Linked DNA regions of Homo sapiens. The protein of the gene in region 2 interacts with the protein of the main gene of each other region in a biochemical or structural test. Each region holds a gene or a part of one and is shown on either strand. Other genes may lie near its edges.

Region 1 (7,000 bases), on a different chromosome or scaffold from region 2:
GGATTCACTTAATCTGGAGTATTGCTCACACAAGCTGGTTCATTCTTTTAATTCATAACATTGAGTGTTTCTCTTTGTTTTGTTTAAAGTTCCTTCTGATATTACTTTGTTTTAATGTTCAGATGCTAATCTGCATACTGCAGTCAATGAAGAGAAACACAGAGTTCCCACCTTCCCAGACAGAGTGGTAAGTCAACATTTTAAAAATGTTTTTCATGGTCAGGATATATTAAATAAACCAAGAGTTGCCAGATTCAAGACTAGAAAATGTGGAATTCATTTAGACTTCTCAGCAAAGAGAGAAAAACCATGAGCTCTAGATAATAGCTATGGGTGGTATTGAATAGCGGATTCAAATATAGAACCATTGTAATATCTCATATTTTTGCATTTCATTGTTGTGTCTTTTCCTAGCCAGTAAGCCCATAAATAGTCACCAAAAAAAAAAAAAGAAAAAATGGGTGCATGCGGGAGATGTCCTTAAGATGGCATCACACATAACAGGCAGCTGTTATTAGCTGTCATTCTTTCCTTACCATCAACATGGCCAAGACTGCTTTGTGGAAGTATCCTGGTGTTGAAATGAAACTCTATAGGACAAAAGCAGAAAACAACATAATTCTTTCCCTCCATTATCCCTTCAAAGCTATTCAGTGGGCTTTCTTCCCTGCTTCCAAATAAAGTCTTTGCCAAATTCCATAGTTTTGCAGTCATTCTCAAATGATAAAAATGTCCCCATTACTTGTAATCATAAGAACAGCCTCTGAATTGTTCCATCCAATGTTATTATCACATGACTGCAAACATCATTCCAAGTTAAACATCTGTCACCTAGCTTGGGCCTGCATCACCTGGCAGCATGCTTTTGGGGAGGGATTTTGGGGGGGCTGAGATTCATGGCCCTTTCAGAGTTAGTTCCAAGGAAGATGAGGTCTAATTAAAAAAAGACACACATAGCTGTTTCTATCATGATTTGGTGGTGGTGGTATCGGAGTGAGTTTTCCAGCACTGATTCTTTATCTCATGGGAGACTTTTAGGAATTTCCTACTGAAGGGCAGATCCATATGTAGTTTTATGACAGGGGAGAGATCTTGATCCTCAGTTCTTGGATTTTCAGCCCTCAATCTTTCAAGATGGCTGTCAGCCAACTTTTTCCCAAGAGTGGAGTTGGCCTATAAGAAAACAAACAAAACCTTGATTGCTCTGGTTAATTAAGCTGTATGTAGCTCTCTCTCGAAGTACAGGCTACTGCTGTCTTTTTGCTCTACTCTCTTGGGTTCATAGCCACAGCCTTCTGTTTTTAGGGTTCCCAGGCAGGTGTGAGCCTCCTCAAATGCCAGGATACACAAAAAATGGCTTCCCATTGGTTCTCTGGAAGTTCACCTGAAAGCAAGGGGACATCTCCGCCCATCTATTGGATCTATGGTGTCTTGGGTACTTATTTTCAGCTACACACATTCGCACACACTTCTCTCTTTCTAAGTAAAAGCCACATAATTTTCATGAATCAACATGAAAGACAAAAATAATCCATTATTGTAGTAGACTGAATAATGTCCCCCAAATTTCATATCCATGTAGAACCTCAGAATGTGACCTTATTGGAACTAGGATCTTTGCAGATGTAATTAGTTAAAGATCAAGATGAAATCACACGAAAGATGAGAGTGGGCCATAAATCCAATGACTAGTAAGATGAGAGGACACAGAGAGATACACAGAGGAGAAGGCCATGTGAAGACCTAGGAAGAGATTGGAGTTATGTTACCACAGGCCAAGGAACACCTGTTTCTTAGTCCATTTGTGCTCTACTAAGGAATACCTGAGGCTGGGTAATTGATAAAGAAAAGAGGTTTATTTAGCTCACCGTTCTGCAGGCTGTACAAGTAGCATAGCACTGGCATCGGCATCTGATGAGGGCCTTAGGCTGCTTCCACTCATGGCAGAAGGGAAGGGGAGCTAGTGTGTGCAGAAATTGTATGGTGAGAGAGAAGAAACAAGAGAGAGGGAAGGGAGATAGCAGGCTCTTTTCAACAACCAGCTCTCATGGGAAATCATAGAGTGAGAACTCATTCACTACCATGAGAATGGCACTAGGCCATTAATGAGGGATTCGCCCCTATGACCCAAATACCTCCCATTAAGCTCTACCTCCAACACTGGAGATCACACATCAACATAAAATTTGGAGGGGTCGAATATCCAAACCATAGCAACTTGGAACCACCAGAAGCTGGAAGAGGCAAGGAAAGATTTTATCCTAGAGGCTTCAGAATAAGTATGGCAATGCTGAAATGTTGATTTTGACTTCTAGCCTCTAGAACTGTGAAACAATAAATTTTTGTGGTTCTAATCCACCAAACTTGTAGCAATTTGTCATGGTAGCCCTAGGAAACAATTATAATCGTTAGGAGTTTTACTTTGTTATTAGCAACATTGCTGTTTGGGTTTGAAAATATGTTTCAGTCCTGAAGCTTGAAAAGTATGGCCCTCTAAAACACCTAGGAGAAACGCCCAGATTAGGCAAATCTATAGAAACAAAGGGTGATCAGTGGTTGCCTGGGACCAGAGTAGGGATGAGAATTGACTGCAAATAGGTATGAAGGATCTTATTGGAGTGATGGGAAGACTGGGCTGTGGTGATAGTTATACAAGTTGATAAATTTACAAAAGTCACTGAATTCTGCACTTTAAAAAGGATGAACTACCAATAAAGTTTGTTTTGACAAGTCTAAGAGCAGAAGATAATTAAGAGCCAGAAACCATTGCATCTAGTCTCCAGCAGGGAACTTTTTGGCCAATATATTGAAAATTATCAGCTAGGCAAATCAGTGGCTAAGGGTTCATAAGCCTGTTTTGATTATAAGCTTCCCAAATGAACCAGGGATCAGAGGGTATCATGTAAAGTATGTTTTTCTTTGTTTTGTTTTTTATCAGAGTATTCAGTAGAGGGCTTATTTTCTGAATGGAGGAAATAAAAATCAGCTCTCTAGTTGTTCTGTTCAAAGAGATTTCCTTAAATGATTTCCATTTAAGGAACTTCCTAGTGCATTTTTCTTTGGACATAACCCACTTCACAGCTCATAAATAACACTGTCCTGCATAATTAAAATTTCCAGAATGTCAAAGCCTTAACTCCAAGTAAATGAAATTTCTGAAAAACTAAAATATAGCATGAAAAAAATATTAAATGCATCTCTTTCTGTCACACACGCACACACAGACACACACACACATATTGTGAATTTTTAACTGAAATATAACATTAACATAGAAAAGCACACAAATCCTAAGTGTTCAGCTTGATGAATTTTCACAAACTGAACAATTCTGTATAATCCACCCTCAGATAAAGAAACACAACATCACAGAACCCCAGGGACACCCTGATGTTCCCTTTCAGTCACTACTACCCTCCAAAAGTAGTTGCTAACCTGATTTATAACATCATAGATTGTTTGCCTGATTTTGACTTTTATATGACTGGAATTATAAAGTGTGTAGTCATTTATTGTGTGTCTTCTTTTCTTCAATTTGTGAGATTCGCTTATTTTTTTAGTATGTGATTATATTTACCGTCATCATTGTATAGAATTCAGTTGTGTGAATATACAACTGTTTTGGTTTCTTATTACTGTTCTAACAAATTACTACACAAATTTAGTGGCTTAAAGCAACATACATTTATTCTCTTATAGTTTGGAAGATCATATGTCTAAAATGGGTCTGCACAGCTGTGTTTCCTCTGGAAGCTTTAGGGAAGATTCTGTTTCCTTGCATTTTCCAGTTCCTAAGGGGTACTTACATTTATTGGTTCCTGGCTCCTTCCCCTGTCTGCAGAACCAGAAGGTTGCAGGACCTCTACTCTCTAACCTCTGCTTCCATCCTCACAGCTCTCTAATCTCTGACCACCTTATCTCCCTTTTATAAAGGCCATTTTGATTACATCAGGCCCACCCCCACAAAATCCAGAATAGTTGCCCCATCTCGAAATCCTTAATTACAATCTGCAAAGTCTCTTTTACCACGTAAGGTATTCACAGGTTCTGGGAATTAGGACATGAACATATTCGGGAGACCATTTTTCAGCCTTCAACAACCACAACATGTTTATTATTTTATCCTCTTGATGGGCATGTAGGCAGTTTCTAGTTTTTATCTAATTAAAATAATTCTGCTATGAACATTCTTTTACAGGTCTTTTGGTTTCCCTGTTGTGTATATATACGTAAAATTTATGAGTCATAGGGTATGACCAGATGCACATCCAGATTTACTAGATTCTGCAAACAAATTTCCAATGTTGTTGTACCACTTCATACTCCAACCAGCAAAATATGAGTTCCAGTTGCTCCATATCCTTGCTCATACCTTTCTTCTTTCCTTGCCTCTTTCCTTCCTCCCTTCCTCCCTCCCTTCCTCCCTCCCTTCTCTCCTTCCTTTCTCTCTCTTTCAAGAGCTGATATACTTAATTGTCAGTTCCCGGTACCTGAATCTGTGCCTCACTGTGATGTATTAAAATTTCTTCCCCTCCAAAGCTGAAGATACCTCGGGCAGTTCCTGTTCTCAAAATGGATGCACCATCTTCAAGTACCACTCTAGCCCAATATGACAACGAATCAAAGAAAAACTATGGCTCCCAGCCACCATCTTCAAGTACCAGTCTAGCGCAATATGACAGCAACTCAAAGAAAATCTATGGCTCCCAGCCAAACTTCAACATGCAGTATATTCCAAGGGAAGACTTCCCTGACTGGTGGCAAGTAAGAAAACTGAAAAGGTAATCCCCAGCTTTCAGACGGGCTGCCCAGCATGTAGAGTAAACACTACCCCGGCTGCCCTGGACCTCAGCCTCAAAGCTGTTGATCCAGGTCTTAGGCTGTCCTCTCAGAAAATGTTCAGTGCTTGAGCCAGAAGTCTGGGGAAGCAGTGGCCCCACTGGGGCTGAGAAGCATAGATTTTCCATTTAGATTATCCAATCTAATGATCTCAGTAATGCCTGATCATTGTATTCCCTTCCCTTTCTCCTCCTTCTCCCCCCAAATATCTCCACATTCCAGAATACAGAATCTTTAAAAATCTATCCTTTATATGAAAGAGCTTAGGATGGGCTTACTTTTGTAATGTGCTTCAGTATCACTAGCCAAATGGCAAATAGCATTTCAAGCAAGGCCATGGCTTGCCTTCTTGGAATGTACAACCTCACCTCTCCTGACCTGATTAGTCTTCTCACAGTTTTTAGCCTAAAGATTCTATCTAAAGCCAGAATTGAAAATTCCTTGAAGGCAACATGTAAATTGTGTATGTATGTATCTCTTGGTATGGCACTGAATTTGCCCTACACTTGATGCCCAATAAATGTTGAATTGAATTGCAAGATGACCATATGGAAAGGGTCAAGTGACTCCCCTTCCTTATTTCCTGTCTCAGACCTCCTTCCTATCATGTTGTCTACTCTCTGCCATCTTCTCACTCAGTTATCAGCATCCCTGCAGGGAAGTCATGTCTGCCTTTCCCCACAATGGATACAGAGCATCTCTCTGACTCACCATGTATCTCTTTTCTTAGTTATTTTTCCCATGTCCTTTTATTCCTTTGTTCTTTCCATCTTCATCATTTTTGCCTAAAGCCAATTACTGAAAGTTTCAATAATACAGGGCCATATGGAATTTGAAATAATGTAAGTGTGTTCTTCTTGATTTTTTTTCAGTATAATAAGCCATGGTCCCTTTCATTCCAAAGTGGAGCTAGAATCCTAGTGTATTAATCTATACCTGGTGCCCAAGGTATGGGGTTACATTTGTGCGCCTGCAGCCCACCATTCTTGTGGAAGGAGAGGATCAGTAAACCCAGTTGCAAGGAGAGTGAAAGTCATGTTAATTGTGTTCCAGGTCCCCTTCCTGACAGAAACTCCAGTGATTCATTGAGAGAGGTGTGAGGTGAAGCTGACTGCCCTGTTTTCAAATAACCAGGAGGAACTGTCGATTCACATGGGGTTGCTGCCATTATTGAGTTTTTGACACTCCTTTAGATTTGCACCTCCTTAGGTTTAGTCCCAACTGTGGATTTTCCCTAGAACTTCAGGAAGCTAGTTATTTTAACAAAGGATTGATTGATCACCTCTTAGCATGAGCAGCATTGCATCTGCAAGTAAATTATAATAATTGCTAAAAGGTCTTCATGGAGCTTGACTTTTTAAAGTGCAGCCATGATTCTTATCTCATATATGGGATAATACTTTTTATCAACTTTCTGTCATTCTTACAATCTTCCCTGAGCTTCTTTTTAATCTACTTTCTGTTTAGTAAGATAATCTATGCCCCCATTAAATCATTCAAATATTACAGAATATTCCATTTACATTCCCCTAAAATGTTTTCTATGCACATGTGGCCATGTGCATACAAAAGCAAGTAAGTTCTCACGATACAGTCTTTGTCATTTGTTCTTTTCACTTGACATCTTCAGCATTTTTCCTATTTGAATACATGAGGATACACCTGACTTTTAAAATTTCATTTTCATTTAATTTTGGTGAAATATACATAACATAAAGTTTACCATCTTAATTATTTTTGAGCATACAGTTCAGTAGTGTTAAGTACATTTACATTGTTGTGCAAATTGCCTGATTATTTTTAATGTCTGTAAGTACCAGTTGTATAGATACTAGGTAAACCTAAGTGATGCACTATTGATGGACATTCTCTAAGTGTTTTTAGAAACAACAAGGCTAAATAAAAGCTATTCTAGTGGGCAAGGCTCTTTGGGAAGGTGGAGAGAGAGGCATTTTAGAGTTTAAGGGCTTTATCTAGGCATTCCTTGAAATAGAGCCAGGGGAGCATTTCCTTGCTAAGGAAACTTGTTTCTATGAACTGTGGTTTTGAAAAAAGTCTGGACTATGAAGGCAAACAGGAAATAGGTTCCACATTCCAGATAAAACAGCCTTTAGACTTTGAGAGGTAGGCACTTCTTCATGCTCTGCTTAATACCCCAAAT
Region 2 (7,000 bases):
GCTGAGGGTAGATACCTGTAAAATCATAGAGTATCTCTTCAAGGTTAAATAAGCTATGAATAACATCAGTTACTTTCTTGGGAGTAGGATTGGATAGCTGGGAACAAGGGTGGTAGATAAGCTTAGTTATCACTGCATAGCCTTTTGTGCCTTTTTGAATTTAGTCCTATGTCCATGAATTACCTTTTCAAAAATAATTTTGGAAAAAGTCCATAGGAGTGAAAGAGGTCTAGGGAGATACTAGAGAGAGAAGAGCAGAGCCCAGGACTGAGCTCTGAGTACCTCTCAACCTTTAGAAAGTAGATAGGATTGGAGGATCTAGCATAGAAGAAGGTGTCTTTACTTGATTCCTCAAAAGTCAAGTAAAAAAGAGGAAAGAGATGATCAGAGAGCATAGAGGCAGTTGGACATGATAAAGGAAGCAGCTTTAGTCAGGTCATGTTGCCATAACCATAATGGGGTGGGTTGAAGATTAAATGAGAGCTGAGGAAATGGAATATAGACATTTGAAGAAGCTTGATTATGAGAGGGGACAGAGAATGGGGGCAGAAGCTGGAGAGATATTGGGGTTAAGGGAGGTTTTTGTTTTTGTTTTAGAATTGGAGATAGTAAAGCATATTTGTATGCTGGGGGCAATTCCTCTCCACTGGAGAGGAAAATAAGGATACAGGAGAGGGAAAGAGGAGATGATCCAGTACAAAAACCTGAGGAATAAAATTATAATCTATGTGAATGAATGAATGAGATGTCCCTGAAAATTAAGACAGAGGATAAGATTCAGAGGAGTAGTCAAACATTACTTTTAGTAAGAAAGAAATGAGAAACGTTGGATTGTTTTGCATTTTTGCAAGTCTTATTAATGTCTGGCTTATAGAAGGCACATGGGCTCTTTTGCCTGCTTCTGTATCCAGTCTCTTTCAATAGCACATGTTCTATACCCTTTGGAAGATTCCACTGTAAACTTATGAGAGAAGAAGAAGAGTACCTCTTAGAATACATCTTAGTATTGTTAGGAAGATAGTTTGACCTTAGGGAGCCTCTGCCTTGGACCATATTTTGAGACTCTCTGCTCTAGCCTAAAGCATATTAGGAAGCTGTATTAGACTGCCTTTTTTTTTTTTTTAAATCTTGAATCAGCATCTTGCCCTGGAGTGCAGTGGCGTGATCATGGCTCACTGCATCTTCAACCTCCTACACTTAAGCAATCCTCCCACCTTAGCTACCCAAGTAGCTGGGACTACAGGTGCATGCCACCACACCTGGTTAAATTTTTAAATTTTTTGTAGAGACAGTCTCACTATGTTGCCCAGGTTGGTTTCAAATTCCTGAGCTCAAGCAATCCTCCTGCCTTGGCCTCCTAAAGTGCTAGGAGTACAGCATGAGCCACTGCATCCAGCGTAGACTGCTTTGTATATTTAAATTATGTGTCGTACTTAGAAGATGAGGTGATTAAATCCTTGATAAAAATCATGATTAAGGTTTTTGGTGTGATTATATCTTGAGTTGCCTTTGAATAATAGAAGCTTAGTAGGAGAAAGAAGTTTGTTTACTATATTTGAGTTAATCTCTTTAGCTCAAGCTAAAATAGTATATCAAATATTCCTCTGAGTAATTTAAGTGTAGATGACCTCAGTCCACATTCTTACCCTTGCTTTTTAGGCAATAATGTACCAGACCCTGTTTTAAAGTTACCTAGGAAATATCTTAAAACCGTCTTCTGTACTTTTTTCACTTACTGAATGATAAATACGTATTTTCTAGTATGTGCTTTTGGATGCCTTTAAAAGTTGATAATATCTGAAAAAGATGAATGGGCAATATTTTCCAATGGAAAAAGTAAGGCTTTGGAATCAGGAAGATGTATGTTTGAATCTCAGCTGGCAAATAGGAAGAATAACTATTTCTGGGACAAATGTGAAATTTGAATGTGGTTATAAATTAAAAGTGACTAGCTTAATGTCTGGAACATAATAGACATTCAGTAAGTTTAAATTTCCCTTTCTCTTTTCCACCACAATTTAGAAAGGCTTTAACAAATTTACAAGATGCTGCTTGAGGTCCAGCTACCTGGGAGGCTGAGGCGGGAGGATCTCTTGAGTTCAGGAGTTCAAGGCCAGCCCAGGCAACATAGCAAAGACCCTGTGTTTAAAAAAAAATTAGAACCTTTGTCACTCCATTAAGGGCAGAGGGCATGGGATAAAAGTTACTATAGATATATAAAGGGGCAATAGGAGTTTAAATATTGATAATTTTTCATGTTTTAATTAGTTCAGATATGTTATTTGTATCCTTGTATATTAAGACTTAATGTAATTAACAGTGTATTATCAGTATTGATGACAGTTTTTAACATGACTACCTCCTTTCATAATAAATGTACTCTTAGTTATGGATGTATCCTTATATTGAAAGAATTAATAATATACTTTACATTTACGTGTTTACCCAGAATTTTCACATAATTTCAATTAATCATTATAATTTGTAGGTTAAGTAACATTCAAAGGAGTTTTCCTTTAATTTTTTAATATTTCTCTTTTTTTTTCCCCCAGACAGTTCAGTTTGTTCAGGGAATTTTTGTTGAAAAATATGACCCAACGATAGAAGATTCCTACAGAAAGGTAAAATGTGAAACTTGTACACACATGCTTACAAGTAGTTCCTTATGATGTTAAAATTTGATCTGTAGATTTGCTTTTTGAAAATAGTTTTGAGAAATAATACAAATATTGTGCATCTGTTTTTAAAAGTTTCATCAAGACAGAACATTTCTTAACAGAATACTACTTTGATATTCAGAGCTCTATGTTCTGTTACTGATTAGTGACTTGTTCCTTAATGTGGACATTTTCCTGGTGGGGAATGTTGCCACATATGAAAAAATTGCATATAAATAGTAGGTGTGTTTTCAACTTACTCTTTTGTTACCAACAATTAAGACCACCTTTATGCTTGAAGTTATCCAGTGACTGAACATTTTTATTTTTGTTTAGTTTTATAAGTTTAAAGATATCTTTAGACTACCAAAAAATTAGAGTCTGTGTAATACTATAATTGGGTTATATGCCATACATTTGTCAAAACCCATAGAATGTACCATGCCAAAAGAAAATCCTAATGTAAACTGTGGACTCTTGGTGATAACGATGTGTTCATGTGGGTTCATCAGTTGTAACAAATGTACCACTCTGGTGCAGGATGTTGATGGTGGGGTGAGGCTATGCATTTGTGGTGGCAAGGAGTATGTGGGAAATCTCTGCACCTTCCCCTCAGTTTTGCTGTGAAACTAAAACTGCTCTAATAAAGTCTATTTAAAAGGGAAAAAAAATTAGGTACTTGGTCTTGACAAAAAATATTCTGTAGAAGACCAGCCAGAGTTGTGGAAAATTTTCAGTATTTTCTATGTCAAATATATTGGGTGGGGTGGAGGTTATAAAAGGCTAGTAGCCAAGAATATTTTTTAAAAAGATTAAACTTTAATAGGAAAGGATTGCTTTTGAAGACATTTTTAGAATTTACCTTTAATAGTGCTGTAACTTTTGTTGAATTAATTTGTTAGTTCATGAAGGACTACTAGTAGAGCAGTTTCATTGTCTTCAAATTGGAAACAGAATTATGCTCTAGATACATCAAGAAACTATAGTCCTAATTGATTATTCACTGAACATTCCCAGTTACAAATTTTGCAGATTATCACACTTGTCCCATAAGTGGTGGGGTGGATGAGTTTGTGGTCTGACCAGTGGTGCCCCTCATCAATGTCTGATCTGACACAGAAGCAGAGTTTAAAATAGTCTTTAGGTTAGCACATTTATTTTTAGAAGACAGTGTTGCTCTACTGAAATTTCCCCAAAGTAAGTTGCTAGTTAAAGCTTTAACTGCAAAGCAAGATCTGTACCTAAAATTCTAAGGGACTAACTTTTCTTAATCCCTTCTTTATTAAAACAGTTTTCCACACAGTTGATAGTTGATACTTTCATTAGACCAACCTTCTTTTCTTTTATAAGACCAATGGGTAAATAGAACTCAGTGTATAAAATTTCACCTTTCACATAGAGCTTTTCTAGAAAAGTGCCTTTTTCTTGAGGCACTGTTTTAGCTCATTGCTGTTTATTTTAGTACTCCTGTGTTTCTTTTATGTCTTAAACTCAGATTTTACTGTGTATTTAATTTTCTGCATATTTTAGTAAAATTTTAACAACTTGAACATGGTAAGTTGGCAAGATTTTCTTTACCCCAAAATGTTGTGCGCATTTTGAGCCATTTAATATTTTTGTACTTTGTTTTCTTTGGAGATAATATAAATACACATATGTACTTTTTTTTCTGTTAGAACTATACTTGTTCGTTGAAGTTTTCCTTAAATTTCAAAATATGACTTTTGCCTTTTCTAATAACAAATAAGAATCGTTACAGAGGTCAGAAAATATCTAAACTCAGCATTAACCATCTTGGCTTCTGTAATATGAATAGACTGTACTTGAGACCGCTGTTCTTTATTGTGGTACCAAGTTTACCCCCAGCCATTACAGCATACTGCTGGAGACAGGCTTTGTATTTGTTAATAGTTACTTTGATGGAAGAGGTGGGAAGAAAACAGAATGAGATTTTGATGTTACTCTTTAACCTTTTTTTTTTTTTTGCCCCCACAGCAAGTTGAAGTCGATTGCCAACAGTGTATGCTCGAAATCCTGGATACTGCAGGGACAGTAAGGATGTTTTCTCTTTTTTTGATAGATTTTAATTTGTGAGCAGGTTTTGTCATCTGAGTAGGTTTTGTCATCCAGATAATTCTGAGTAAAAGTAATCATTCTGATTAAGAAGAAATTCTCTGAACATAGGGATTCTTAAGTATATGAAATCAACTCTGATGTAGTTCATGCTCACATATCACAAAGTTCACCTGTAATAATCTGTGTGTTGGGTTTCTTCCTACATTGAGGTAAGGATTATGCTGTCAGTGATTTTTTAAAATTTATTTTAAATTTAGAGCTTTAGTTAATATTTGTATTTCTATGGGTTTAAATAAGACCTTGTCTCTTGGCACCATAGTCATTAATTTTTATAATTTTTTCTTTTCACTAGCATTTTGACATCTCAAGGGGCTGGTGACAGATACATGTTTTCTGAGGAAGGCAAAAATCTTCCTCAGAAGATTTAGAATTATTTTGAGCCTCCTTTTTCTAATCTTTAAATGAGTATAATGATGTTAGTACATCATAAGGTGTTTGTGATAAGCAAATGAGTTAATAATTATAAATCATTAGGCATAATGTCTGTTACACAGTATGGAATTGTGTATTTGCTTTTATTCTTCTTCATTAATACCATCACCTTTATAATTTTTATTAATAACTGATGGTTTCCAGTTATACTGCCACATAAAATACATACATTAAGCAATCTTTGCTTTTCTTTGTTTATTTTTCTCCATGCACATAGACTTGACACATTAGGCAATTCTTAGCTTTAAAATGGATGGGTTCGTTTTTTGTTTTGCTTAAGAGACGAGGTCTTGCTCTGTCACCTAGGCTAGGGTGTAGTGGTGCAATCATAGTTCACCGCAGTCTCCTGGGCTCAAACAGTCTTCCTGCCTCAGCCTCCTGGGTAGCTAGAATTAAAGGCACGTACCACCACCCCCAGCTAATAAAAAAATTTTTTTTGTAGAGGTGGTTTCGCTGTGTTGCCCAGGCTAATCTCGAACTCCTGACCTCAAGTGTTCTTCCTGGCTCTGCTTCTGAAAGTGCTGGGATTATAGGTGTGAGCCATGGCACCTGGCTGGCATTTTTAAATGTGATAAGTTGTTTAAAATTCAGCACAAAGTTTTCCACTATAATTTTTATAAATGATGGAAACATTTCAGATAGTTCAAAAAAGCATGTAAGCAAATTGGAGTGATTTTATACAACAATATAGTACTAATTATACTGTATTTTTCCATTCTTTTTTGGGAAAATGGCTTAACTCTTATCAGGGACCTTTGCCCTCACAACAAGCTTCTGGTAAAGACCTTCTGAAACTACATTTTCTATCAGCTGAATCAAGCTATCTCTCCCTCTCCCACCCTCCTGCTCTCTAATGTTTTTAGCTTCTGAATCAGCAGAATTCCCCTTTGTTTCCAGAGACCCTAATAGCTAAAATGAATACTTTCTGCTTTTTTTTTTTTTAAATCACATCCACAGTGTACGGGCATTCTTCTTTCTCTGTCCAGATTGTAAGAAGGAAGTTCTCTATCACAGAGATCTTTACTTTGTGCTATCCAATATCGTGTCTGTCTCCCATCTAGCACTCAACACGCTGTGTTATAAGGCCTATTTGCTTGTTTGTGTCCCCAGTACCTTGCATAAAACCTTACAAACAGCTGCATAATCTTGTCTCAAAATCACTCCTTACACTTTGAAGATTTTTGCTTTCTCTCTTTCACATACACTGATTCAATCAGAATTCTTAGTGATTTTACTATCCATATAGAATCTATATGGATATTATAAATGATTTACTACCCTGGCTTGGCCTGTCATTTCCTTGATGTCCATCCTACCTTTAAGGCATTCATACCATGGTTTTACTCTAGGCTATGTGATTACCAATAAGTATAATACCTCTCTAATCTAATTTCCAAGCATCTTATCCTCCATTACTCACTACTTTTTTCTTTATCCATCTCACTTCCTCTTTTTTTTTTTTTTTTGAAACAGGGTCTCTCTCTGTCACCCAGGCTGGAGTGCAGTGGTGTGAACACAGATCACTGCAGCTTCAACCTCCCAGGGTCAAGAAATCCTCCCACCATAACCTCCTGAGGAGCTGGTGCTACTGCAGGTGCATACCACCACACCTAGCTTTTTTTTTTTTTTAATTTTTTGTAGAGACAGGGTCTCACTATATTGTCCAAGCTGGTCTTGAACTGGACTCAAGGGATCCTCCTGTCTTTGGCCTCCCAAAGTGCTGGGATAACAGGTGTGAGCCACTGCACCCAGGCCATCTCATTTCCTTTAGTGCC

The links. The genes of interacting proteins can lie anywhere in the genome.
Region 1: the proteins of RAP1A (region 2) and BMX form a complex in vitro, tested with the Homo sapiens proteins (one study listed by BioGRID).

Annotation. Positions count from the first base shown.
Region 1 is NC_000023.11:15,517,807-15,524,806, forward strand, and holds part of BMX (cytoplasmic tyrosine-protein kinase BMX), read left to right. Parts: intron 1-122; coding exon 123-187; intron 188-390; exon of another isoform or gene 391-1,121; coding exon of another isoform or gene 1,122-1,173; intron 1,174-4,539; coding exon 4,540-4,781; intron 4,782-7,000. UniProt on the Homo sapiens protein: Non-receptor tyrosine kinase that plays central but diverse modulatory roles in various signaling processes involved in the regulation of actin reorganization, cell migration, cell proliferation and survival, cell adhesion, and apoptosis.
Region 2 is NC_000001.11:111,692,789-111,699,788, forward strand, and holds part of RAP1A (ras-related protein Rap-1A precursor), read left to right. Parts: intron 1-2,552; coding exon 2,553-2,621; intron 2,622-4,652; coding exon 4,653-4,709; intron 4,710-7,000. UniProt on the Homo sapiens protein: Counteracts the mitogenic function of Ras, at least partly because it can interact with Ras GAPs and RAF in a competitive manner. Together with ITGB1BP1, regulates KRIT1 localization to microtubules and membranes.